Regions from separate parts of the Homo sapiens genome. Here regions 2, 3, 4, 5 and 6 are each linked to region 1. The links come from fine-mapping of genetic effects on gene expression. A gene starts in region 1. Each other region holds a variant in brackets. All regions are shown on one strand. Distances are from middle to middle.

What was found. PIP is the estimated chance that this variant, and not a neighbour inherited with it, causes the effect.
Region 2: its variant is the best candidate, but not a certain one, in a credible set for the expression of WDFY2 in whole blood (INTERVAL, PIP 0.53).
Region 3: its variant is the best candidate, but not a certain one, in a credible set for the expression of WDFY2 in whole blood (TOPMed, PIP 0.52).
Region 4: its variant is the best candidate, but not a certain one, in a credible set for the expression of WDFY2 in pancreas (GTEx, PIP 0.54).
Region 5: its variant is the best candidate, but not a certain one, in a credible set for the expression of WDFY2 in tibial nerve (GTEx, PIP 0.62).
Region 6: its variant is the best candidate, but not a certain one, in a credible set for the expression of WDFY2 in whole blood (TOPMed, PIP 0.53).

What each region holds. Positions count from the first base shown.
Region 1 is chr13:51,582,684-51,586,772 of GRCh38, forward strand. It overlaps WDFY2 (WD repeat and FYVE domain containing 2), which reads left to right and starts at 1,779. Exons shown (of 12, transcript NM_052950.4): 1 at 1,779-2,141. The coding sequence starts at 2,005. It also overlaps the pseudogene RNY1P6. RefSeq lists enhancers at 1,031-1,551, 1,210-1,489 and a silencer at 1,630-1,999.
Region 2 is chr13:51,901,122-51,905,210 of GRCh38, forward strand. It overlaps a transcript of TMEM272 not described here. Among named protein-coding and RNA genes, the nearest start is that of CCDC70, 41 kb to the left of the region's middle. The variant C/A (reference allele first, on the strand shown) is at 1,817.
Region 3 is chr13:51,611,402-51,615,490 of GRCh38, forward strand. The region is part of intron 1 of WDFY2 (WD repeat and FYVE domain containing 2); the gene reads left to right. Among named protein-coding and RNA genes, the nearest start is that of WDFY2, 29 kb to the left of the region's middle. RefSeq lists enhancers at 2,985-3,044, 3,075-3,164. The variant T/C (reference allele first, on the strand shown) is at 1,770.
Region 4 is chr13:51,789,455-51,793,543 of GRCh38, forward strand. DHRS12 (dehydrogenase/reductase 12) reads right to left here. Exons shown (of 9, transcript NM_001377533.1): 3 at 1,711-1,803; 4 at 557-638. Among named protein-coding and RNA genes, the nearest start is that of DHRS12, 13 kb to the right of the region's middle. The variant C/A (reference allele first, on the strand shown) is at 1,933.
Region 5 is chr13:51,732,780-51,736,868 of GRCh38, forward strand. All of the region lies in intron 6 of WDFY2 (WD repeat and FYVE domain containing 2), which reads left to right. The region is part of intron 1 of LOC124903177 (a long non-coding RNA gene); the gene reads right to left. Among named protein-coding and RNA genes, the nearest start is that of DHRS12, 69 kb to the right of the region's middle. The variant C/T (reference allele first, on the strand shown) is at 2,161.
Region 6 is chr13:51,764,279-51,768,367 of GRCh38, forward strand. WDFY2 (WD repeat and FYVE domain containing 2) reads left to right here. Exons shown (of 12, transcript NM_052950.4): 12 at 1-3,431. It overlaps DHRS12 (dehydrogenase/reductase 12), which reads right to left. Exons shown (of 9, transcript NM_001377533.1): 9 at 3,715-4,018. The coding sequence ends at 3,909. Among named protein-coding and RNA genes, the nearest start is that of DHRS12, 38 kb to the right of the region's middle. RefSeq lists an enhancer at 243-562. The variant C/T (reference allele first, on the strand shown) is at 2,039.

The DNA.
Region 1 (4,089 bases):
GGAGGTCCTGAGAACATGTGCCCAAGGTGGTCGGGGTACAGCTGAGTTTTATATATCTTAAGAAGGCATGAGACATCAATCAAATACATTTAAGAAATACATTGGTTTGGTTCAGAAAAGTGGGACCACTTAAAGCGGGGGCTTCAAGGCTATAGGTAAATTTAAACGTTTTTTGGTTGACAATTGGTTGAGTTTATCTGAAGACCTGGGATCAACGGAAAGGAATGTTCAGGTTAAGGTAAAGGATTGTGGAGACCAGGTTTTATTGTGCAGAGGAATCTTTTAGATAGCAGCCTTTAGAGACAGCAGGTTGTAAAATGTTCCTTACCAGACCTAAAACGGTGCCTGGCTCTTAGTTGGTTATCTCCTGGGTGTAGGAAGGAAGGAAGGAAAACAAAGGGGAAAGGGGATATAGAATGTGGATTTTTCCCACAAGAGACTTTGCAGGGCAATTTTAAGGCATGGCAAGGAAATATAATTTGGGGTAAAACATTTTGATTTTCTTCCTTGTTACGCCAGAGTCAGACTGGAAAGTAAGTCATGACCTACATGGTCAAAACCCATCTGATGAGAATTTATGGTTTTTGTAGGCCATGACTCCCCAGACCCCTTAGATAGGAATTTGGGCAAGATAAAAAAGCAGAGCTTAGTCTTCACGATCAACCCCACATGCCAGGCCTTCTGGTAGGCACCTAACATTCAGTCAGTAACTACAGTAACTCTGTCCGTTGTGTCTGGAGCAAGCTAAAAAGGCTGGATTGCTGGGGAAATGGAAAGAAGCCAGCACTAGGGGCCTGGGTTCAAGTCTGGAGGGAAGGAGGGGTTGTTTAGCCCTAACTTTGCACTAAAGTAACCTTGGCTGTGTAATTTAGCCATCTAAGAAAACGAGGGGATAGACACCCCATATGTTCTCTGAGCTCCCTTGAAGATGTCTGTATGAAAGATTCTCTCCTTTTCATGTCCCTTCCGTGCCACTATTCCGAGCATCAGTCTGACCCTAGGAGTGGTGACGTCCTACTCAGCTGGGGGCTGCCCCTCAGTTCCCATAGAGGCAAGTCTGGGTCCTGACTTGGCCAATGGCCCTGGAGGCCGCTGAGCTCCTCAGGCCCATAGCGCAGAAAGTGGGCGATAGGTCATTCCAGGACAAGGGGGCGGAGGCTCCAAGAAACTACGACTCCCAGGAGGCCACTGGGTTCCCTCCGGCAGCCTGGGCCTGGTGCATGTTGGGAGCAGTAAGCGGCCTCCCGCCGCGCTTCATTGTTAAGACCGCTAGGCCAGGTAGCCCGCGCGCATGCCAAGTCACGTCCCAACGAGTTGGGCGGCTTTCCTTCCTGCAGGCCTCTTCTCTTTCCGGTCTTGCTGAGGCGCTCCTTTCCCCGCCCCACCTCCGCCCTCTTTTCAGGGAATTTCGAAGGGGCGTGGCGTCTGGCAAGCGCGTCCCCAGGGGTGTGTATACGCGCGTTCACGGGAGGTTAAAGAGGGAGGAGCCTAACCCTTGGGTGTGTAAGGCAGAGAGAAGACCGCGAGGAACGGAAAGCGCATGCGTCCTAGTGGTGCTGCAGCGCCCGGGGAGTCGCGGAGGGGAGGGGTGAAAATGGGCTTGCGGGACTGACGCACGCGCATTGGGATACCAGATCCCCGCCTCCTGCTCCAGGTTTCCCCTCCTCCTTCACCACCCTCCCGGAAGTGGAGCCGCCCTCGCGCCCACCAGCGGCTACCCCCTGCGGCAGGCCCCGCCCACACAGGCTCCGCCCCCCGGCGCTCCGCCCCCTCCTCTTGTAGTGGCGCCGGCTTGCATCCCAGGTCGTGGCGGTTTTGGTGCCTGAAGCAGGGAGCGCGGAGTCGTTCCCGAGAGAGGCGGCCAGGCTATGCTCGCCGGTTTCCGGCGTTCCGCTCCGGCCAGCCAGAGTCTCTGTCTCAACCTGTGTCCGTGCTCCAGCAGTCTCCTCAGCCCGGCCCCGCGGCGCGGTTGGCGGCGGCGCCCCAGGCGCGCCCCCTCCTCCGATGGCGGCGGAGATCCAGCCCAAGCCTCTGACCCGCAAGCCGATCCTGCTGCAGCGGATGGAGGGGTCCCAGGAGGTGGTGAATATGGCCGTGATCGTGCCCAAAGAGGAGGGCGTCATCAGCGTCTCCGAGGACAGGTATGGACTACTGCCATTCGGCCGCGAGGAGGGGCGGGACGGGCCGACGGCCCTCGAGCCCGCGTCAGGGGCTGTGCCTTCACGTCGGCGCGAGTGTAGACTTGCTCCCCCAAGTTTTATTGTAATGCGCATCCTGGTGGTGCCGGTGTTCAGCTGCGCGCCGCCTCCGCTGTGTGGCTCCGGGAAGCGGAGCCGGGACGGCGGCGAGCGCTCCGGCTTCACCCCGGGCTGGGTAGTGCCTGCGGGAGCCGGGTGGCCCTCGGGCTAACGGTGCGCTGGAGGGACTTTGGTCCATCCCTGAGGACAGGAGGGAAAGAGGGGAGGAGCCGCCCGGCTTTGCAGGTGTGTGCTTGGGGAACGATGCCCTGAGCCGCCTCTGCAAGATAACCAAGGGGTTTGGGGTACTCTCGTACAGCTCCCAGGGTTTCAAACGGAGAAAGCAAATGCCACTCCTTCTTCCCAGACATTCCTACTGAATCCAGATAACCCAGACATCTTAGGCTGAATTCAGTGAATATTCTAAGTTGTACCAAGAGTAAGTTTAGGCTTCTGCGTGGTGCCTTCTTTCCTTTCCCCTCCTTATCTCTTGGAGCTCGAGGAGAAGCGCGTAGAACTTGTAACGGATCACTGCTGCAAATAGCTCTTGAGTTCCTTCCCTTTGCCTGTTTCCTTTATTTTTGCTTAATTTTGCTTAATATGCAGAAGTGGAACTAGTTGTTCTGCCTTCAAATACTCTCTCTGTTTTGCGTTTTCGCTTTAACTGAATTTCCTTGAATATGCAGGAATAAAGCTGATGAAGCTAATTTCTAGAGTAATGTTGCTTGAAGATAGTATTATGATAATTTATCTGAAATTGTTTCTTTGGTAAAATCTATATAAGCATTCTTACAAAAGAACACTGTAGAGGTACATAACACGGGGATTTTACAGTAAGTAGGTTTTCTTAATATAAGTTCAAATCATGCAGAGGTAAAGTATCCTTTCTTGGTGACTCAAAATTGAGAGGCTGAGCAACAAAGTGCTCATTGCTGTCTTTATAGTCATTTCCGCACTTAGCATAGTGTGTGGCCTCAACAATTGAGCTCGATAGGTTTGTTCATGTCTTAGGTTCTTCAGTATAACTAGGATGAGTATATTAATGACATGTTCTTGTCTACATCATGCTCAATACAAATGGCGCCTGATTAATTTCCTGTGCAGATCCAATGGAAAACATTGTAAACATACACCAGTGGCAAGCATTCTGCAATGAACAGAAGAAATTCATGGCTGAAATGGAGTACATGGATGTAGGACCCTTTTGAAATTCACAGAGAAGCCTTATGAGAAAGTTTGATTTTTTCCATAAAGGCAAAATTTTATTAAAAAGACTGCTTCTGGACCTAGAAATTCTTTGGCACAGTATTGTTTTTATGGGATATATTCCATAAAATATATTGAAGGAATATATTGGTAGATGTCACTTTCCCAGTCTGTAACTACTGGAGATGGAACTGATCAATTTCTAACTGCTGTGGAAAATTCATAAGCAAATTCATGGAATCAAGAAAAGGAGAAGGGTAGTTAAACCTAAGCTGCTTTAATATTTTATTTATTTTTTTAAGACTAGTTAAGTACGGTAGTGAGAAGGGGAAGAGAGTAGAACAAGGAGTTCAATCTGTAACTGACTGTGAACAATTGAGATAATAAAACTACCTTCAGACCATCCTAAGCTCCTTTAATATTAAGGTGTTATTATAGTATTGAAACTTCTGATTCCCATTTCACCACATTTACCTTGAAGGAAACAGCTTTACTGGGGTATATTTTCAAGTGTTTGGAGACGCTGAAGTAGTGTATATTAATGAAACTGAAGAATAAATTTCATTTGATTATAGGATGAAAGAAATGCAATGTTCAGCTATGTCTTAGCCTAATTTTCACTTTCCTAGTGTACAATGTAAATAAT
Region 2 (4,089 bases), 320 kb after region 1:
TCAATAAAACTTTTCTTTTTTTTTCAAGTGAGGCCCAGCCTTCTCATATTTGTGATGTTAATGTCCACACAACCTCATCTGTACTCACAAAATTGTGAAGGAAGAGAACCTGGGTCCACACACACTTTAATGAAGCACGGTTCCTGAGTGTGGCTGCATCTGGTCCAGCTAGAAAGTTGTGCCTGGCATTTGACCTGCTAAAAAGCCAAGTTCCACATGGTCTAGAGTTCAATGCAGAAATATCCCTGGTACATATAAAGAAACCACTCCTGCTAGAGGGGTGGCGCCCGGTGGAGCTGCCTGTGCCCCACCCGCCCTCCCATGCCTCACACCCCTCTCAGTTGTCAGTTGCCCCTGGAACAGGTACTTCTGGAAATTCATATAGCCAAGGAAAGTCAAAAATGAAGAAGAATCCAACAAAAACACAGAAATACATCAGTTGACTTGGGTCAATGGCATTACTAACTACCCCCGGAGAAGCCTGGACACATCTTCAGTGTCTCTATTTTCCTTTCTGCCCTCCCCCAGTGCCCACTCCATCCCAAGTCCCTTTACAAAGCTCTGTGACAGTGGCTCTCCTAAGTATCTAGAATCTACCTGCTCTCCTAAGGCTCACTGCCTCCCCGAGTTCAGGCTTTATCAGCCTCCTCCCACAAACACGTAGCCTCCTCCCTGCTTTCCCTACCTCCAGCCCAGCCTAGCTACAATCCTCTGGGCAGAAGCCCCATTGGGTGTGTTTACATTCCAAATTTGTGCAGAAAATCCACATAGCTTCATTGGGTTACCCAGTCCAGAGCAAAAACGCCAGGCCTTTCTCACTCTGTCATCCAAGCTCAAAATCCAAGAGAGGAGAGTTTCAAGGAGGAGGAGCTTGGGAAGTTATCCACTGGGGTCAAGCTCCATGGAAAGGTCATGTAATAAAAAAACTGAAAAGAATCACTTGGGATGTGGTATCAGGGGGGTTACTGCAGACCTCTGGAGAAGCCATTTCAGGGGTGAGGTCAGAAGCCAACGTGCATTGGATGAAAGAATAAATATAGGTGGATTCTCAGTTTTGTAAGATGTAAAAATCAAGAGAAGCAAAATGAAAAAAAGCACTGATGTTGAAGACAGTTTCCCAGTTGCCTTGTTACATTTTCAGTGTGGGACTGAAGGGGTGGTAGGCATTACTTCAACAGAATCACAACACATTTTGCCCTTCTCACGGCCTGGCGCCTGGAAAAGCTTTGGGAATTATTAGCTGCTGCTATTGATGTTGAGGGCACCCACATGCCTTTAGAACCAGAATCTAAAATGTTCAGCCTCTCAATGTCTAAAATGAACTGCTGCAATGTTGCAGATTTAAAAATTAGAGGAAAGTTATTTTATTAAATACATTTTAGAATATAGGTTTTATAGAAAGTATGTTATCATAGCTACTCTAGAAGCTGAACTTGGGAGAGTCCCATGGTTAGAGGGACTGAGCATTCTGCCAACAACCAGCCCCACCTTGCCAGCCAGGCCAGTGAGCCACCCCAGAAGCAAGGCCACCTGCCTCAGTCAAGCCTGCAGGTCACTTGCAGCCCTGATGGACAGTCTGTGGGCAACCTCCTGAGAAACCCAAACGGGAACCATTCTGCTAAGCTGCTCCCAAATCTCTGACACACACAGACTGTGAAATAACAAATATTCATTGTCCGTTTAAGGCACTAAGTTTTGGAGTAATTTATTTTGAGAAACAGATAACTAACACAGCCCTGACAGCAATTGGTTATTGGCTATGTGATGCCGAGGGAGTGGATAACTTCCTAGCATGGTGGCTTCTGCTCTGCAAGGG[C/A]AATTCTTCAGGAAGCAGGTGGCTGCGGTGAGCAATACTCAAAGCTGGGAGATGAGTGCATCCGCCTGGTAAAGGGGCCCTGGGCAAGGCACCAATAGCATCCACTGGGGGTGTTGATTATAATCTAGTACCTAAATATAGTTTTGGTTTTGACAGGTCAGTTTGTACACAAACACAATTGTGGAAATATTTTGCATTTCTTTTGAAGGTCTCACCTCCTTAGTGTGTGTATCCAGGAGGTACACAACTAGAACTGGATGCACGAGGCAGCAGCAGTGGGAAGCAGCAAGGTGATCTAGAGACACTTTATTTATTACTCACTAAGTCCCAAAAAGTGCTTGCAAATATAGAAAGTGCAGGTAGAGATGATCAATAATAACTAACTATAGTGTCTTCCCTTCATTGCCATTGAGGTCTTGGTTTCCAATAAGACACTTCATAACTCATTCCTAAGCATGCTGTTGGAAATGGGAGGGAGGGAGAGGTGGCACACCAACGAGGTCAGGGAGGGAAGAGAGACTCTACGTCAGATGACGATGTCTCAGTTGTCACTTCAGGTTCTGGCTGCTCTCTCCACTGTACAAGGAAAGCCACCAAATAGAGGGCAAACTGCTCCCCCTACTCTCCCCAGAACACCCCTTTTTCCTATCCCTAGGTGTAAGTGCAGGAGACCCTGAGCATCTAATGGAGTCAGATGCTAAGTTAAACACCCAGAAGTCCCGGTTTCTATGGGGCCAGAGGAAAAGGCAGAGTGCTATTTCCAGACTTCAGTGGCAACCGAAAAATGAAAAAGACTCGTGTGGGTGTGGGGCAAAGGCTGCCCCAGAATGCCCAAACTTTAGCTTCAATAAACCTATCATAGCCATAATGAGGCAGTGCTGGGGCAGAAAAGAGAACCATATAGGGTCTTCTGCTCTGGCAGAATCATACCTGGTTGTGCAACCAAAGTGTCTTCTCACACCTGCCTCCTATGACACCATTTGGGTTTCTCCAACAGTCTTCCACGTGTGTGTGTGTGTGTGTGTGTGTGTGTGTTTAGAAAGAAGCATCTGGTCACCAGAAACTCAAAGGCCAATAACTCTTAACAAAAATACATTCACACTGGACAAGTGAACACTCAATCTAACACACAGCACCTGTGGCCCTGGGATGCTAGGCATGAGGTGGTTTTCTGCAGTGCTGCTTCTCATTCACCATCAGCATCAGAATCAGCATGAGCTTAATGACTGCTTGTTGCCTGCTTTGCAGTGATGATGACAATGATGGTAATATTAATGATGATGATGATGATGATGTTAATGAGCCCATGGACCAGATTTAGTGCTGCTGCCTATTTTGAAATTAAGAAATACATGATGACAGAAACTGAATTCAGGTAGCACTGGGCTAAAGGCAGATGACTGATGACTGCTTGGTGGCTAGCTTATATGCAATTCTTATGATGACCCTAAGGTAATTGTTGTTGATGATGATGATAATGATAATTGATGATCATGATCATGATGAGTCAGATCTGGGAAAACATCACCTGGCCTTCAGCAGCTAATGCATAGTAGTAATGAATAATTTTCTCTGGGCTTGAATAGGAATTCATGGTATGGACGTGGAAAAGAAGGAGGCTCTAGATCAAAAGAGAAAAGATAAGCATGGTCCGTTTTCAAGATATTGTGAAAAGTACAGGTTGAGCAATCCAAAAATCTGAAATGCTCAAAATTCTGCAACTTTTTGAGTATCAATATGATGCTCAAAGGTCATGCTCAAAGGAAATGCTCATTGGAGCATTTTAGATTTTAGATTTTCAGTTTGGGAATGCTCAACCAGCAAATATAATGCAAATATTCCAAAATCCTAAATCTAAAACACTTCTGGCTCCAAGCATTTCAATTAAGAAACATTCATTCTGTACTGATGTGGAGGCTGAAAACCTTGAATTTTATTTACCAGGTAGGGGAACATCATCATTAGTAGTGTTTCTTAACCTCATTAGTACTGACATTTTGGAATAGATAATTGCTGTGGGAGTCTGTTCTGTGTGCTGTGGGGTGTTTAACAGCATCCCTGCCCTCCAACCACTTGACGCCAGTAGCACACCTCCAGTAGTTACTGTGTAAAATATCTGTGGACATTACCAAATGCTCCTGGGGGAGGTCAAAAGCACCCTCGTTGAGAAGCATTGAGCTAAGAGAAACAGCAGACAACACGAAGCAGTCAACAGAGAACGGCCCTAAGCAGGAGAAGAAATGTCAGGCTGAAGGCAGTTCGTGCAGGGAGAG
Region 3 (4,089 bases), 29 kb after region 1:
TCCTTTGTTTTCAATGAATTTATTTTATCGTTGAGATTTTGCCTCAGCATACAACAAATCTTAAATGAATAATAATATATTGGATCTATAAAGCATTTTATACTTTGCAGTTTTTTCTTGCTTTATCATTTGATTGTCACTATGGTACTGTGAAGTAAGGGGTTCACAACACTGTTGGTTATCTGTTCAGTTGTCTGCTTCATTCTTTCTTGCTGGTCGAACCTCAATTTTGTTTAGGTATTTACCCCTACCTCATACGACTCAGGACTGAATCCTGATGACTCCAAGTCTGTTATGGTAAATTCATTCCCTTTGCCAGGGGTTTGGTTTAGGATTAGGCATGAGACCCAGTTCTGGCCAGTGATAGGAGCAGGGAAGTCTGCTGGTCATAAGGAAGGAGATACCTCTGGGAAAGGAAAGTTCACTCCCTTCTGGGAAGAAATACACAGGAATGATCCCTGTTTTTCTGCTGCCTGTTGTCATGACTGAATGTGACTACTTGGAGCTACAATCATGCGCACATAAGGAAAGGTAGCCTGAAAATAAGTTGACTGGCTGAATATGGCAGAAAAGAAATATGGAAAGAGCCAGCCGTCAAATGAACCAACCCTGGAGCTGCCCTACTGCTTGACTTCTTCTTACCAGACAATACATTTTCCTTATTCTAGTTGAGAGCATCCTAATTCATATTGATATCATTATTACCTTTTACAGGCAAGGAAACTGAGAATTACAGAGCTTTACATGGAATGATCATCATTAGATGGTGAATTCACTTGTGAAGCTAGGAGAATTAAGACACATACTGATTTCTAGTCTATGGCCTGCTCCACTGTGTAGCTTCTCTATAAAGCAGCCCTGCCTCCCTGTTTAGGAGGGAACTGGATTACCAAATTTAGGTATTTATGTATGAAATCCATTTTAGACAGTTCCTAAGTATTTGGTGATTGATTACCTATGACAGATACTGCTTTGGAATTCTTACTGATATCTTGTTACCAACTTTTCTTAACTTGGCTGACATAAATTAGAACTTTGAACACTTTCAAATTGTGTTTCAAATTAACACTTAGAAGTCTTTTTACAATTAAATTTTTTTTACTGTTTTATAGGTACACATTTCAAAAAGTTTGTTAAGCTCTGTCTATGCTTGTAGATACATATGCCAAAAAGTGTATTAAACTCTGAGAAGTGATATAGTCCATTTGTAAAAGGAAGTATTAAAATAATAACTAACCAATGCTTTGGACTAGTTGGGAATAGGGGATTTATGTCTGGCTTTGGCAGTTGTATAGTTCTTTGTTAATGTGGAAAGTTTATGGTTGACCATATACATTATGTTCTGTGCATTGTCCTTCTTTGTTGACTTTCTTCTCTGTTTTCTACTCTATTCTTTCTCCACCTTCCTCCCCCTTACAGGTAGAGGGTGCAGAGATTGTGATCAGTAGCATGTGGTATATTTCTTCTTATTACAGAGGCAAATCAGGACAGTGTTCAATGTGAGTAAGGGAGTTTATTCATAGTTGAAAAATTCAATTTAAAAATATCTGATGCCATGTGAAAGACACTTTGGTGGGGGAGGGTTAGGTGTTTTTGAAAAGAAAATTATTCTTGGTGGAGGCCGTGGTGGCTGATCATGAAGAAGCTGCAGCCATGTGCGGTGGTGCATGCCTGTAGTCCCAGCTACCCGGAAGGCTGAGGTGGGAGGATCACTTAAGCCCAGGAGTTTGAGGCTGTAGTGTGTGATCATCATGCCTGTGCATAGCCAC[T/C]GCACTCCAGCCTGGGTGACATAATGAGACCCTGTCTCTAAAAAATAAAAAAAAAGAAGCTGCAAAGATGACAAAGCTCCAGTCTCCTGGAGCTTACAGCATATGCCCCCCATCTCCCCTTCTTTCCCAAGCTGAAATGACTGCCATCCTGGAGAGGACCTCTGTCGAGGGCTCAATCTGCTCCTCTTGCGGGGCTTTTGCTCATTCTTCGGTTCTGAGAGGCTGGCTAGCTAAAGTGAGGACTAAAACAGGACTACATTTTGAGATTGTTCTTTCCAGTAGTAGAGTGGTTAAATAGTTCCATCAGCTTGTGCATTTCCTTCCTTATCTAGTGAAATACTTTGAAGAACATGATTTTGGACAGTGGTGGGTCTTTCCCTGGGCACATTCTGTAATATTTTCTTAATTCTTCATTTCAAGCTACAAGTGAGCCCAAATTCTTGGGAATGGATTAATGACAAAAATACATACTCAGTCTTGTATAATTGTTAAGAATTCCTTCTTAGCTGTGATTTTTTTTTTCGTGGAAAAGTCTTAGATGCCTAAATTTTATGTCACAGCTAAAACAAGCCATGTGGTGTGCTGATAAGGGTAATTTAACACCAAGTTAGCACAGGTGACACCATATGTTGCTGATTACTGACTTCTCCTTAAGGGTGTTCTTGAATTTTGTACTTGAAGTGTTTAATGATTTGATTTCTCCTTTTAAAATTAAGTATGTCTGTGAATAAGGCCAGGCGTCCCATGTAATCATGCCTGTAATCCCAGCACTTTGGGAGGCTGAGGCGAGTGGATCATGAGGTCAGGAGTTTGAGACCAGCCTGGCTAACATAGTGAAACCCCGTTTCTACTAAAAATACAAAAAATTAGCTGGGCCTGGTGGTGGGCGCCTGTAATCCCAACTACTTGGGAGGCTGAGGCAGGAGAATCGCTTGAACCTGGGAGGCAGAGGTTGCAGTGAGCCAAGATCGTGCCACTGCACCCCAGCCTGGGCGACAGTGCGAGACTCGGTCTCCAAAAAAAAAAAAAAAAAAAAAAAAGTGTATCTGTGAATAGAGAACTTGCCTTTCAAACCAGCATAGCTGTTCTTCAAGGGATTATCTCAAGCTATGAAAATGAAAGGGTTGTTTTAAAATTTATATGAAGATGTTGAGTGAACCCTGATATATAGTTTAGATTCTAGATTTTGCTGCAACGAACAGAAAACCTGACTCATTCACAATGTCTTAAACAAGTAAACGGTTATTTTCCTTTTATACCAAGAAGTCCAGAGGTGGGCATTCTAGGGTTGGTCAGTGGCTCAGAGATGCTATCAGAGACCCATGGTGCTGCTGCCTTTCCATTCAGCCATCCTTAGTGATCTTGTCCCTTTGAAGCCTCACGATGGCTGCTCTCCAGTCAGCATTGCATCTGCTTTCCAGGCAGGAAGGAGGAGAAGGGCAGATGGCAAAAGGCACGTACCAGCTGTGCCTGTTCTCTTTCAAAGAGCTTCCTGGAAGCTCAGTTCAGTGACTTCCGCTTACATGTCATTAACCAAAACTGTGTCACATTGCCACCCGTAGCTGGAGACAAGGCTGGGAAATGTAGTTTTGGCCGGGCACGTTGTCACCCTGAACACAATTGGAATTCTGTTGGAAAATATTTTAAAAAGAATTATGTGTCTGTTGTCTCTAAACTAATGGGACTCAGGAGGAATGAAATAAATGAACATTTATTGAAAATCTACACTGGGTGTTTTGCTGGGTTCTTTGAGTGCCTTAGCACTCTGAGAGATCATATACACATTGATGTAAAAGAATAAAGTAAGCTCAGAGTGCACATAAAGAGGTAAAAACACGGGGTTAATTGTATCCTTTGTGGGTGTGTTCTCTCAATTGATTTATTAAGCTTGGAATTAGTTTAAAAACTATCTTGAAACCCAGAAATTATAATGGGAAATTGTGACTAATTTAACCATATTCATATGTTGAAAGCCAGCATTCATAAATGAAGAGTTAGAGAGGATATTTGCAACACAAGTTGAAAAGTCTTAGTATTCATAATAGATTAAAAGCCTCAAATAATATAAAAAAGCTAACCCTATTAAAAAATAAAAAATATGGACAGGTAGATATTTCTCCAAAGACAACATACAGATAGTAAAAAATAAAGTTGGAAACAAATAATTAAATCAGTGCAAATTAAAAAAAAAACACTGAAACATCATTTTTTGATTCCCAGATTGGTAAATATTTTTTAAAATAGATAATAAGGATCTAAGGAGAAAAGGCACTTTTCATATATTTTGATAGTACTGTTGATACCATCACTTTGAAGAACA
Region 4 (4,089 bases), 210 kb after region 1:
ATCTGGGTGGGGAATCTAAGAATGTGCATGTCTATCAAGTTCCCAGGTGATGCTGAGGCTGCTGGTCTGGGAACCCCACTTGGAGAGCCACTGGCCTGATATAAAATGACTTCACTCTGCTATTACAGAGTAGCAACCAGAGCCCAGGTATCTGTGCTCTAGCCAATGCGCTTCTTGGTCCATCTTCTTGCCCACTGGTTGCACCTTCCTCAGCCCTGGCTGGAAGTTCCTTTGGTTGCAGTTTTTAGACTTGCACTCAACACTTAAGCTGAACTTGCTCTCCTCTTCAAAACAATGTCTATAAACAGCCTAGCGCTTCCTAGGAAAAAAAACACTTCAATACTAAGTATTTCTGGCACCAACACCTATTATAAGAAACATGAAAAGAGAAAGTGTTTTATGAAGAAAAATAAGTACAATTCAGAATAAACTTAAAGCAAACGTCATCAGGCCCAGGACCAAGAACCAAAAAAGTTGGTCAATTTTTTTTTACCCTTCTATGGTACATTCTATGTTTATTTTGCTAAAAACAAATAAGAAAACTTCTTGTACTTACCCAGAGTATTGGCAGCAAAGTTTTTTTCAAGTCCATCTTCTGTGAGCTCTCTTTTATTGACCATGCAACCTGCATTATTGATCTAAAATTTATAGTTCTCATTTCAAAATAAAGAAAAATAGGGCCAAAAGACCTATTTCCATCCCCACACCTCCACTACCCCACCCCCAGCTCTTTTTCAACTTTCAAGTGACAATGACAATTTGCTCAACTGATTCTTTACTCCAAACCCTTTGCAGGAAAATACCACTTGTGCAGAGGATTCAGCCACAGAACTGTGCAAAGATCGCCAAGTGAGACAGCTTGGCCAGGCAACCTAATTCATGAGAGAGTGCTCTGGAAATTCATCTAGTCCAGAACGGTCCAATAGAAATATCTAATCTTAAGATTTCTAGTAGCCACATTAAAAAGGTAGTAAGAAACTGGTAAAATTAATTTAATAATATATTTAACCAAATATATCCAAAATAGCATCATTTTAACATGTAATCAATATAGAATATTAATGAGATGGCATAGATAATTTTTTTCAGGCCTTGAAACCTGCTAATTTATACACTTACACCACATCTCAGTTTGGACTAGCTACATTTCAAATGCTTCACAGCCACACTGGACAGCACAATTCCAGACTCTGGAACAACGTTTCAGAGCACATCAGAAACTCTTCGGATAGAAAAGCAACTTAGCTCCAAGTAGAGTATCTGGGAAGAGCACACTGGGACTCTTTCTATCTGAGTCTACCCAGGCTCTCCATGGAGTTTTGTGCTAATTATGTTACTAAAAGATTTGCCTGTCTGCAGGAGGTATTCTTTTGGACAAAAAGAGCTTCTAATTTCAACACACCAATCCCCAAATCTACAGAATTGAGAAAAATTTATATACAAATCATCATTTTATAAAACATGGAACATATCTATCCTCCCACAACACCTACCCAGTGGATGGCCCCTTCCTTTCCCCACTAATCTAACCACATGCGTCTCCTCTTAAATCCAATGAGTAAACTTGATTCCATGAACAGGCCCAAGCATAAGAGAGTCTTACTAAGATTCTTCCATAAAGACAGGCAAACATACATATCCGTCCACATCCACAGACGGAAACAATGGGCCAACATGAATTTATTCTCCACTTATGTTTACAAAGCTCACCAGAACATGGAGTTTATGTTCCTGCTTGAAATTTTCAACAAATTTCCAGATTTGCTTGGGATCAGACAAGTCCACAATGTGCAGAAAAATGTTCTAAATTAGAAAGCAAAAAAAAAAAAAACCCTTTTTAAAAAGATATAAACTAGCACTTTTAATTTTAAAAAAGTATACGGTTTTTAAAAAGCAAATACTTTGAAATGATATAAAACGGAAAATACCAGT[C/A]CCACTCCTCAAAAATAAACCATTGTTCAGTTTTTTGTGAATCATCCAGAAATATTTTAAGCATATACTATATATACAATACATATATTTTAAGATATATATTTTATATATACATACACCACACAAATAGGATCAGACTATGCATTGTTCTACATCCGTGTTTTTCACTTAACAATATGTCTTTTAGTTTTTGGTGGTAAAAACAGTTTTTACTTTTTTATTTTATTGTGATAAGGATACTTAATATGAGATCTACCCTCTTAACAAAATTTCCAGCATGCTGACTAGGTACAATGTTGTACAGTGCACCTCTAGAGTTTATTCACCTTGCCTAACTGAAACTTTGTGCCCTTTGATAGTAACTCCACATTTCTCCTTTCCCCCAGCCCCTGACAACCACCATTCCACTCTTTGGTTCTATGAATTCTGAGTACTATGGCTACCTCACATAAGTGAAATCGAATAGTCTTTGTCTTTCTGTGCCTGGCTTATTGAACTTGGGTTAGCTCCTCCAGGTTCATCCATGTCGTTGCAGGATTTCTTTCCTTTTAAGGCTGAATGATATTCCAATGTGTGTAGGTATGTACCACATTTTCTTTGTCCATTCTTCTGTCGATGGACATTTAAGTTGTTTCCACATCTTGGCTATTGTGAATAATGCTGCAATGGACGTGAAGGTGCTAATGGCTCTTCAGGATCCTGATTTCAATTCCCTTGGATAAGTACCCAGAAGTGCAATTGCTGGGTCAGATGGTAGCTCTATTTTGAATTTTTTGAGGAACCTCCATACTGTTTTCCATAGAGGCTGCACCATTTTGCATTTCCACAAATGGTGTGCAAGGGTTCCAATTTCTCCATAACCTAACAAACATTTTTTGTTTTTTGTTTTTTTAGCAATAGCATCCTGAGAGGTGTGAGGTGATATTTCACTCTAGTTTTGATTTGCATTTCCCTGACGACTACTGACATTGAAAGTATTTTTTCATATATGTGTTGGCCATTTGTTTTTTGTTTGTTTTTTCTTGAGAAAAAGAGTGCCACTGCACTCTGTCGCCCAGGCTAGAGTGCAGTGGCATGATTTTGGCTCACTGCAACCTCCGCCTCCCAGGTTCAAGTGATTCTCCTGCCTCAGCCTCCCAAGTAGCTGGGACTAGAGGTGCATGCCACCATGCTCAGCTAATTTTTATATTTTTAGGAGAGACGGTGTTTCATCATGTTGGCCAGGCTGGTCTTGAACTCCTGACCTCAAGTGATCTGTCTGCCTTGGCCTCCCAAAGTTCTGGGATTACGGGCATGAGCCACCGTGCCCAGCTTGTGTTGGCCATTTGTGTATCTTCTTTGGAGAAATGTCTATTCAAGTCTTTAGACCATTTTCAAATCCGGTTATAAGTTACGTCGTTGTTTGTTTGTTTTGCTATTGAGTTGTAGGACTTACAAGAGGTCTTGGAGATGATTTTGTTACATATGAATCCACCCTATTCGTTTTAATGACTACATAATTTACCTTTGCATGGATATGTCAGGGTTTCCTGCTGCTGATCTTTTTTTTTTTTTGGTCAAAAGTTTGCTCTTCAGACAGTATCTCAGGCACATCATAAATAAGATGACAACTTCTGCTGTGACCCTTAGTCCTTGCTCATGACACTTTTCAATCTCTGCCTTGTATCATGGTTATCACTGGACACAGCCACCTCCCCAGCAGGCTTAGAACTCCATGAGTAAGGGACCCTGTCTAATGTGCCGTTTCTCCTTATGGTATTACACACAGTCATAGGCATGGTAGTCGACTAATGGATCTTGGCTGTTTAAACCTTTTTCTCTGTACCCAGTACCTAAGTCCAAACTTGCATTCTTAGCATCCAATGAATGCAACGGCATCCTCTCTGAGCATCAGTGGACATACGTGACTTATCACTAACCCAAGGCAGAGGGCACCTAAGTATTGAACCTACAGACGAGGATCTGAGCAAGAGCCACAACTCCTTTGACAAAGCAGAGAAGTTCCGTGCCCTGCCTGAGTTTCCCCATTAATCAAGCTATAAAACTCAAAGCTGTAGTCGAATTTATTTCTACTCATCTTAAAACATATTGTTTTCTCACCTGAGACAAATGAGACAAAGCAACTCCACATTTTCATGACTCAGAAAGTCTAGTCAG
Region 5 (4,089 bases), 150 kb after region 1:
GTCAGTCATCCGCTCTCTATGTATATGATGGTGCCAGGAAATGTGGGTGAATAAAACAAGCATAATCTTTGCCCTTATCCATCTTCCAGCCAGCATGGAATGCATGCATTAGACCAGTAGTTACAGAGAATTCATCCAAACATTATGAGTAGCAGGTGCCGTGGAGCCCTGATGTGCACAGAGGCTTCTTTGGAAGCAAATAATAAAAGGTCCACTCCTCTTGCGGATAATTAAAGGGAGGCTTCCCAAATAAGTGTGTTTTTGTTTTTGTTTTGAGACAGAGTCTTGCTCTGTCACCCAGGCTGGAGTGTAGTGGCACGATCTCAGCTCACTGCAACCTCCATCTCTTGGGCTCAAGCAATTCTCCTGCCTCAGCCTCCTGAGTAGCTGGGATTACAGGTGCACGCCACCACACCCATCAAAGTTTTTTTATTTTTAGTAAAGATAGGGTTTCACTATGTTGGTCAGGCTGGTCTTGAACTCCTGACTTCAGGTGATCCGCCCACTTCAGCCTCCCAAAGTGCTGGGATTACAGGCGTGAGCCACTGTGCCCAGCCAGAAGTGGTGTTTAAATAGCACCTTAAGGAGAAAAAGGAGTTATGTAGGTGGTGGGAACATTCCAGACCTGCAGAACAGCAGCCTAGAGTGGGAAAATGTTAGCAACCACACAAAGGCAAGTGACCTTACAAGTAGTGGTAGGAGCTTCAGGCATTATTCTCAGGTTGGCGGGAAACCAGTGATGAAGTTTAAACAGAGTAGTGACATGGTTTGCATTTTAATAAGCCACTGTGGCAGCAGTAGGTGGTAGATTGACTGGGAACAGAATGGATGGAGGGAGACTGTTTAGGAGGCTACTGCTGGAGTCCCTTGGAAAGCTGACTTTGTTTGGACTGGGGGACAGCAGTGTGTGTGGAGACAAGTGGAGGAGATTTAAGATCTGTTTGGAGAACAGGGGTCAGCCGCATTTGGTAACTGCATGGAGTAGCAGTGACTCCCAAGGCTTCTGTCTAGAGCATGTATTGGCTGGTGATGGCATTTCCTGAAACCTGGAGTACTGCTGGGAGAGCAGGTCTAGGAGACAATAGCACTGTGCTTGAACTGAACACTTCCCTGGGGTGGCAGCAAAGAGACAGCTGGGTGAAGAGTTATGGATCTCAGGAAGAAGGTATACTCTAGAGATGGAGGGCCTTTAGCTTGACAAAAACCCTTGTCACTTCACTCTAGAGCAAAATGCAGCAATCAAAAGGTCAGATATTTTATTCAACAGGCTCTTAGTCTCCTTTAGCCTCATGTTGGCCTGCACATATTACCCTTGAGGGTGTGGTGTGACACTCCCTCTGCTAAGTTACCAGATCACACTCTGGGAAAGGCAGACCCAGCAGTTTCCAACCCTGATTTTGTAACACTCCACGTGGTCATTCACTTTTGCAAGGTATGTGGTAAAAGTCTCAAAAAAAAATTAGTTCCCTAAGCATTTTGGTAATATATATTAAATTTCTAAAAATCTTTATACTCTCTGATTCATTTCTACATTTGGGATTCTCTTCTAACTAATTGGAAACCTGAACAAAATTGTATGTGTAAAAATATTCATCTTAGAAAAATTCATACTTAAAAGTTGAGAAAAATCTAAAAATAGTTGAAATAAGATACATACGTGGGAGATATTAGCCAACCACTAACAGTTATATTTATGAGAGTATATAGTAGTATACATTGTATAATTATGAAAACTTTTATTTTAAAAATATTTTGGCGATTTTTTTATTTTGATAAAATACGTGTAACCTGAACTTTACCGTTTCAACCTTCTAAGTGTACAAGTAATGCACAAGTCAATGACATAAAGTACATTCACAGTGTTGTACAGCCATTGCCTCTATCCATTTCCAGAACTTCTTCATCATCCTTAATAGAAGACCTGTGCCCACTAAAGAATAACTAGAAAACTTTATTTGTAAGAATTAAACCATTTTTATTTAAAAATTATTCTGTAGGTCATATTAGGGAGGTCAAAGGAAGGGAGAAGCATAAAATGAAACACTGAAAGGGACCAGAAAGATGGATTAACTTGAAATGAAGTCAAATGAAATGGAAGAAATGCTTTTTGTCATTTAAAATAGAAACACTGGAAAACCACAAGCATTGAAGCCCTGGGCT[C/T]TGCCCCCAGTGTGGGTTGGGGTATGAGATATGTGTCTGCACTGCCTGGAATGCAGGGTAGCTGAAGGTGGTTGACTTCCTCTGCTGCCAGAAGTGTTAGGAGAAAGAACTATACAGTTCATCAGGAAGCCCTGTGTGCAGAGAGATGCAGGAAAAATTCCCTCAGAAGGGAGAGGCCGTTTCCATCAGCAGCTCTCCCCACTGCATCTCTGATCCTGATGTCTTGCACAGCCTTCCCACCAGCCGCCATCCCAGGCTGTCCTGGATGCCTCTTGCTTATTGTCCTCCTATTTCTCTCTGCCACTCAATGCAGCAGATCAGTTGAGTAAACATCTACTGAGCACCTCCTGCATACCAGTCACTGTGTGCTGTGCTGGAATACAAAGATACATAACCCAAAGTCTGCGGTGGGGACAGACTTATAATCCAACCAAGTTCAATATAGTGGGGTCTGTGTAGCAATAGAGATATGCACAGAGACTGGAACTTCACCTGGATTGAAGGTGTTGGGAAGGCTTCCTGGAGGGAGAAAAAGTTACTTGGGTGATAAAAGGCAGGACAGGCACTCCAGACAGGGGAAGCAGTCACATATCCCGTAAGAGAATGGCTCGACCAAACATAACGTGCATGCTCTTCTGTTCTCAAAAGTAATCCATCATCTTATCATTGTACATTTTTGGTAGGTAGAATGTAAGTCTTATTTCATTGTATCTGCTGAGCCTAGCACAGTTCCTCCACATAGAAGAGGCTCAATACATGCTTGTTGAACTGATTTGAAATGAATGCTGTGATTTATCATTTATAGGCCAACTTTCAAATGACCTCATTGTTAGGACATTTATATAGAGCAGGCATGGGACCCCAGAGTTATTTACTCCCTACACCATCCTAAACTTTTTCTTGTCTTGCAGCTTTTCCTTCTATCTCTTCCACTTTGGGCCCTGGGAGTGTCTGATGAATATACCCTGACTTGCTTTAACCAGTTTATCTATTTGCCTTCCTAACTCTCTGTGTTGCCAAGAACTCCCCTTCCTAGCCCTGACCCCTTCTGGCCTGATATAATGTGGCAAAGCTAGAGATTGGTCTTGTTTTTAAGACCTTAATTGATCTCATGATGGCTGGGATAGCATAGAATAAGCTGACTGGCCTTAAGGCTGACTCAACAAAGGACACTGTCACAGAGATTGTATAGATGAGGTCTCCTGTACTGTAATCATAGCTGACATTTGTTGAGTGGTGCTTCCCATGTGCTAGGCACTGTTGTGTGTGTTTATATATATTAACCCAATTAATCTCAACAATACTGTGGGTTAGGTACTATTATCATCCCTGTTTTACAGATGAGACTTCTGAGGCACAGAAACGTTAAGTAACTTGTCCAAGGTCCTATACCTAATAAAGATAGGGCTGGGATTTAAGACTAGATTCTGGTTCCAGAGCCTGTACACTTATAATACCATATCCAAACTTTCTCTTCTATCCCCATAAACCATCCTCATCCCATAGTCACCAACAAAGAAGGCAGAGAGCTGGCTCCTCATGGTGCAGTGTTTTTTGTTTTGTTTTGTTTGGAGACGGAGTCTCACTCTGTTGCCCAGGCTGGAGTGCAGTGGCGTGATCTCTGCTCACTGCAACCCCTGCCTCCTGGGTTCAAGCGATTCTTCTGCCTCAGCCTCCCAAGTAGCTGGAACTACAGGTGCGCGCCACCACGCCCAGCTAATTTTTGTATTTTTAGTAGAGATGGGGTTTCATCATATTGGCCAGGCTGGTCTCAAACTCCTGACCTCGTGATCAGCCCGCCTTGGCCTCCCAAAGTGCTGGGATTACAGGCGTGAGCTACCGCACCCGGCCCCATGGTGTAGTGTTCTTAGATGTGTAGGTATATATCGGTCAGGGAAGTCTAAAGGTATCTGTCACCTGGGTCATGGT
Region 6 (4,089 bases), 180 kb after region 1:
TTTTCAGTGCAATGTGGTTATGATAGAGGCATGCCAGGGTGCCACTAACCCAGCAGGTGTGGCAGGAGGGGCTTCACAGAGGAAAGGGACTTTGAGCTCAGTGTTAAAGGATGAGGAGTGAGTCATAAGGGGGAAAAATGGAAATGACTTTCCAGGCTTCAGAAACAGCATAAACAAACAAAGGCCTGAGAGCTGGAGTCAGTGTGGTGTGTCCAGGGATCACAAGTGGGCTGGAGCTGCCGGAGAACAGCCAAGTGGCTCAGCTGCCATCCCAGAATTGAGCTCGTCACTATCAGATGCTGCTGCTCCCTGGCCTCAGAGGAAAGCAGCACACAGCTCACCACGAGGGGTTTCCCCAGAGGCTCCTCCTGCAGCCAATGCTACTATTAGTTTATATTATAATAGTATCAGTTTCTTTTTCTTTGGAAATCCCTAGAACTGTTAACTGAAGGTGACTCAGGGTAACTAATTCTGGATCTTTGGGTGCACAGCCTCTCACTGGAGTCTGAGAGGAGGAGGTGGAGACTATCAGTGCACGGCCCGCAACCAGGAAGGACTCCCAGACTAACGCCAAAGGTGTGTTGGGCTCAGCTGCTCCACTGTGGAAAAGGAAAGCCCTGGCCCTGTGGCAGGAGAGGATTGTTCTAGTCAAGTGTGGCGTTGCACGGACAGGCGGTGCCGAGTGTTTGGGTGCAGACACAGGCAGCTGCTGCCCTCCACTTCCTGCTCTTGCAAGTCACAGATGATTCCAGTACAATGTGGGAGGTCCTCCTTACAGGGGCACTTGCAACAGGAAGGCAGAGAGTTTCGTCAATTCAGGTACAGGTCTGTCTGGGAGACCTGGCCCTGTGGAGGCAGGAACACCGTGCAGGGGCATGGCAGCGCCTGTCTTTGCTATCACATCATTTGCCTTTTCCTTGTAGGACCCAAAGATCTATGTCCAAAACTTAGTCCAGAAACATCTGCATTCCTGTTTAAACTTCAGCTCAGTTTCTTAACCAAGAACCACGTCAACCCTCCAGGGTTGTGGTTTGTATTTTTGCCTTTAAGCATTATCTCCTTTCCACCAAGAAGCCTACTTAGGTTTAACACATGAAAGCAGTGTCTAAAAATTAGATCGGTCCTAAATTGGAATGGGATGTCTTCCTTGCATGTCCCATACCAGGGAATTTTTTTAACACACAGTGTAGAGCCTTTGCCAGAGATGTTGAAAGGGAGATTAAAGGCTTGAGGGATGAATTTGATCATCATTCTTAAAGTCCCTTCCAATCCTGTGATTCTCTGATTCCCTGAGTCTCGTTTATTATTGGACATGCCTAGCCCATCACCAGTGACCTGCCCGCATATTGCTGGCTTCCCTTGGATAACGGAGAGCCTATCACCACATGCCTTTGTTGTCTTCCATCATATCAAGTGAGTTGCTTTCTGGACTTTTTCCATCTAGAGCCTGCTAGGTTTGGTTTTGAGAAAAGATGGTGAAGTTTCTTTTCATGAGTTTGTAGGGCAAAAAAAATTCTTTTTAAAGATGGTAAGGGTGGAAATTAATCATGGTACCATCTCATTAAAAATAGATACCTCAAAATGTTTACCTTTACAAGTCAAGAAGAGTATCTGACTTTCTTGGAAGTGTCAAGAATTGCAGGTTGGCTGAAAAGTTAGATTGAGAATCTGACCTTGTTACTTATGATTCTTTTTTCCCTTGGTTCTCGGGGATGCATGAGAAGGTGAGCTGTCACTCACAAAAAAAGGGAAAATGATTTGAAAAATGTTTCACATATACACTTTTTATCATTTTAGTGGATGGCAGCCTTACGTCAGTAGTATATGCCACTATGAAGTATGGCCAAAACCCTAGCGTCACTTGTAACCATTGTACTCTTATGGATTTGTGTCTTACACCATTTGCCTTGCTTTTTAAATGACTTTGTTTTTCAAGGTGCTGTCATTTTGCAAAAGGAAATCTTTATATGAAATGTACAAAAACCGTTACTAACTGGACAACAGGGAAGGTGCTGGCCCCACATTAGTGCCTGCCCAC[C/T]GCTCTACTTCTAACCAGGGACACGGATCTTCCATTCTCTACATCCACCGGACTGCAGCCCAAGTCTGGACCTGGCTGCAGTGGGCATATTACCGTATGGATATCTTTTTCTTTCTTTTTTTAAAGTGAGGAGATTCTTCAGGGGGTCAGGCTGAGAATGTAATAAGCCTGACATTGGAACAGATTTCTCCCGTGTGGTCTAGCTGGACCCCTCCGGCATTTGCCACACTCCCTGCCAGTCCTGACATTGACTTCCTGAATGTGATTAGGTGGTAATGAGCAAGAATTTCCTAGGATATTGAAACATCTGTATCCAGGCCCCCAATCAAATGCTGCTGAATATTGTGAATGTTTTTACTCCGCTCACTTTCCCACTGTGCTTTCCTCTAACCAAAATATACGTGTAGCCATTACCAATGTACAACTCTCAATGCGGAGTTGCCGCCACGGTTTAAAATAAATCTCTGTGAAAACCTTTCTGCAGCTATGGTCCCATCACGGTTACATGTGGCCACGCACACACCGACAACCTTGCTGTGCTGTTTAGCCCTGTGGGTTCTGTCCAGTTGGTGGGAGGGGGAGGTTCCAGACCACTCCACCTGCTGTCTAGATGCCAGGGAGAGCTGCTGTTTGGAGGTGAAGATGAGCCCTGTTCACCACAGTCTAAGCACAGCACACGGGCTCAAGCCATGGAGCCCTTTTCCTTCATCATGTAAGTCAGCTTTTTCTTGTGCTTAGTAAACTTTTCCAGTGAGGAGAAATGACTTCGGGGCAAACACTGCCAGGGAAAGCCTCATTTAAAACTTGTGAGGTTCATTTTATGGAGAAGAAAAATAGGTGCAAAGGCACCAAGTGACCTGCATGCTATGGAATCACCGTTGAGGGGGTGGCTGGGTTGCCCCGTCCTGGTGCTGCCAGCACAGCGTCGCCCACACCCAGCATTGCTGAGGCCCATCATCCTCCTGCAGAAAAGGAGGCATGCAGTTAAATGGAGCTGGTGCTTGCTTGATAGCGCCTCCTTTTGTCAGAAAGACGCTGATGTTTCAGGCTGGCACACCCAGAAAAATCCCTTCCTTGTGGTCCTTGGCTGATGATGAGCCCTGGATCAGAGTGTCTCCAGGACCACTGAGAAGCTGCAGCCGTCTGGGTTTTCCTCTGCTATGGGGGATGAGTTACGTTTATTCCACCATGGACACCAAGAATGTATGTAGATGTATTCTAAATCTGCTCATTGGTTTTATTACAACTTTTCCTGGAGTCACTAAGAGGTAAAATGGTGTAAATTAGAGGTTTTATCAAAGTGTAGTACCAGAATGCCAGATGCATTACTGAAGCCACTCCTAATCTTAAGCAAATGTAAACTAGGCCTCATTAAATTGTTTGTGTAAATATGCATCGTCCCTTGGTTATGCTGTGCTTCTGGGACCATGCACAGTAAAGGCAGTGTCCAGCCCTCTCCTGGGGCGGGGGGGGGGGGGGGGTGCACAGCGCCAGCCTCTGACACTGGAGGAGCTGAGAAAGGGAGGGGAAGTGGAGTTCACAGGGGGGCATTCCTGCTGCCCCCACCCCTGCGTCCCCTAAGACTGAAATGATGGTTCATCTCAAACTTCGAATTCTTTAGAAAACCATTCTCGAATAAATGAGACTTAAAATAAGAAAAGAACCTGCTGCAGGAGTTCAAGGTGAGCCTGATCACAGCCTCGGTAGTATTTATTTTGAAATAAAAGTTCCCATCCCTTGTAGGCCTCGCTGTGAGGCACAACGTCTTCGAGGGGAAGTTGAAGTGGGGTCTTCTTATTCACTGGTCCCTAGACCGCACCTTCTGGTATCTTCTAAGGCAATTCTGGTACCGCACTGTGTCTGGGTTGGCCTATTTAAATGTCTGAGCCAGCTGTTCCAGGATTTCAATGAGTTTCTCCTCTTCGGCCGGTGAGGAGGACGCTGTAGCGAGAGGCAAGTGTGTAGAAACTGGCTTCCGATCTAAAAGTGAGAGGGAACCGCAGAGAGGTGTGAGCTGCTGCAGCGTGGCTGGGTCCATGTCCCTGTGCTGC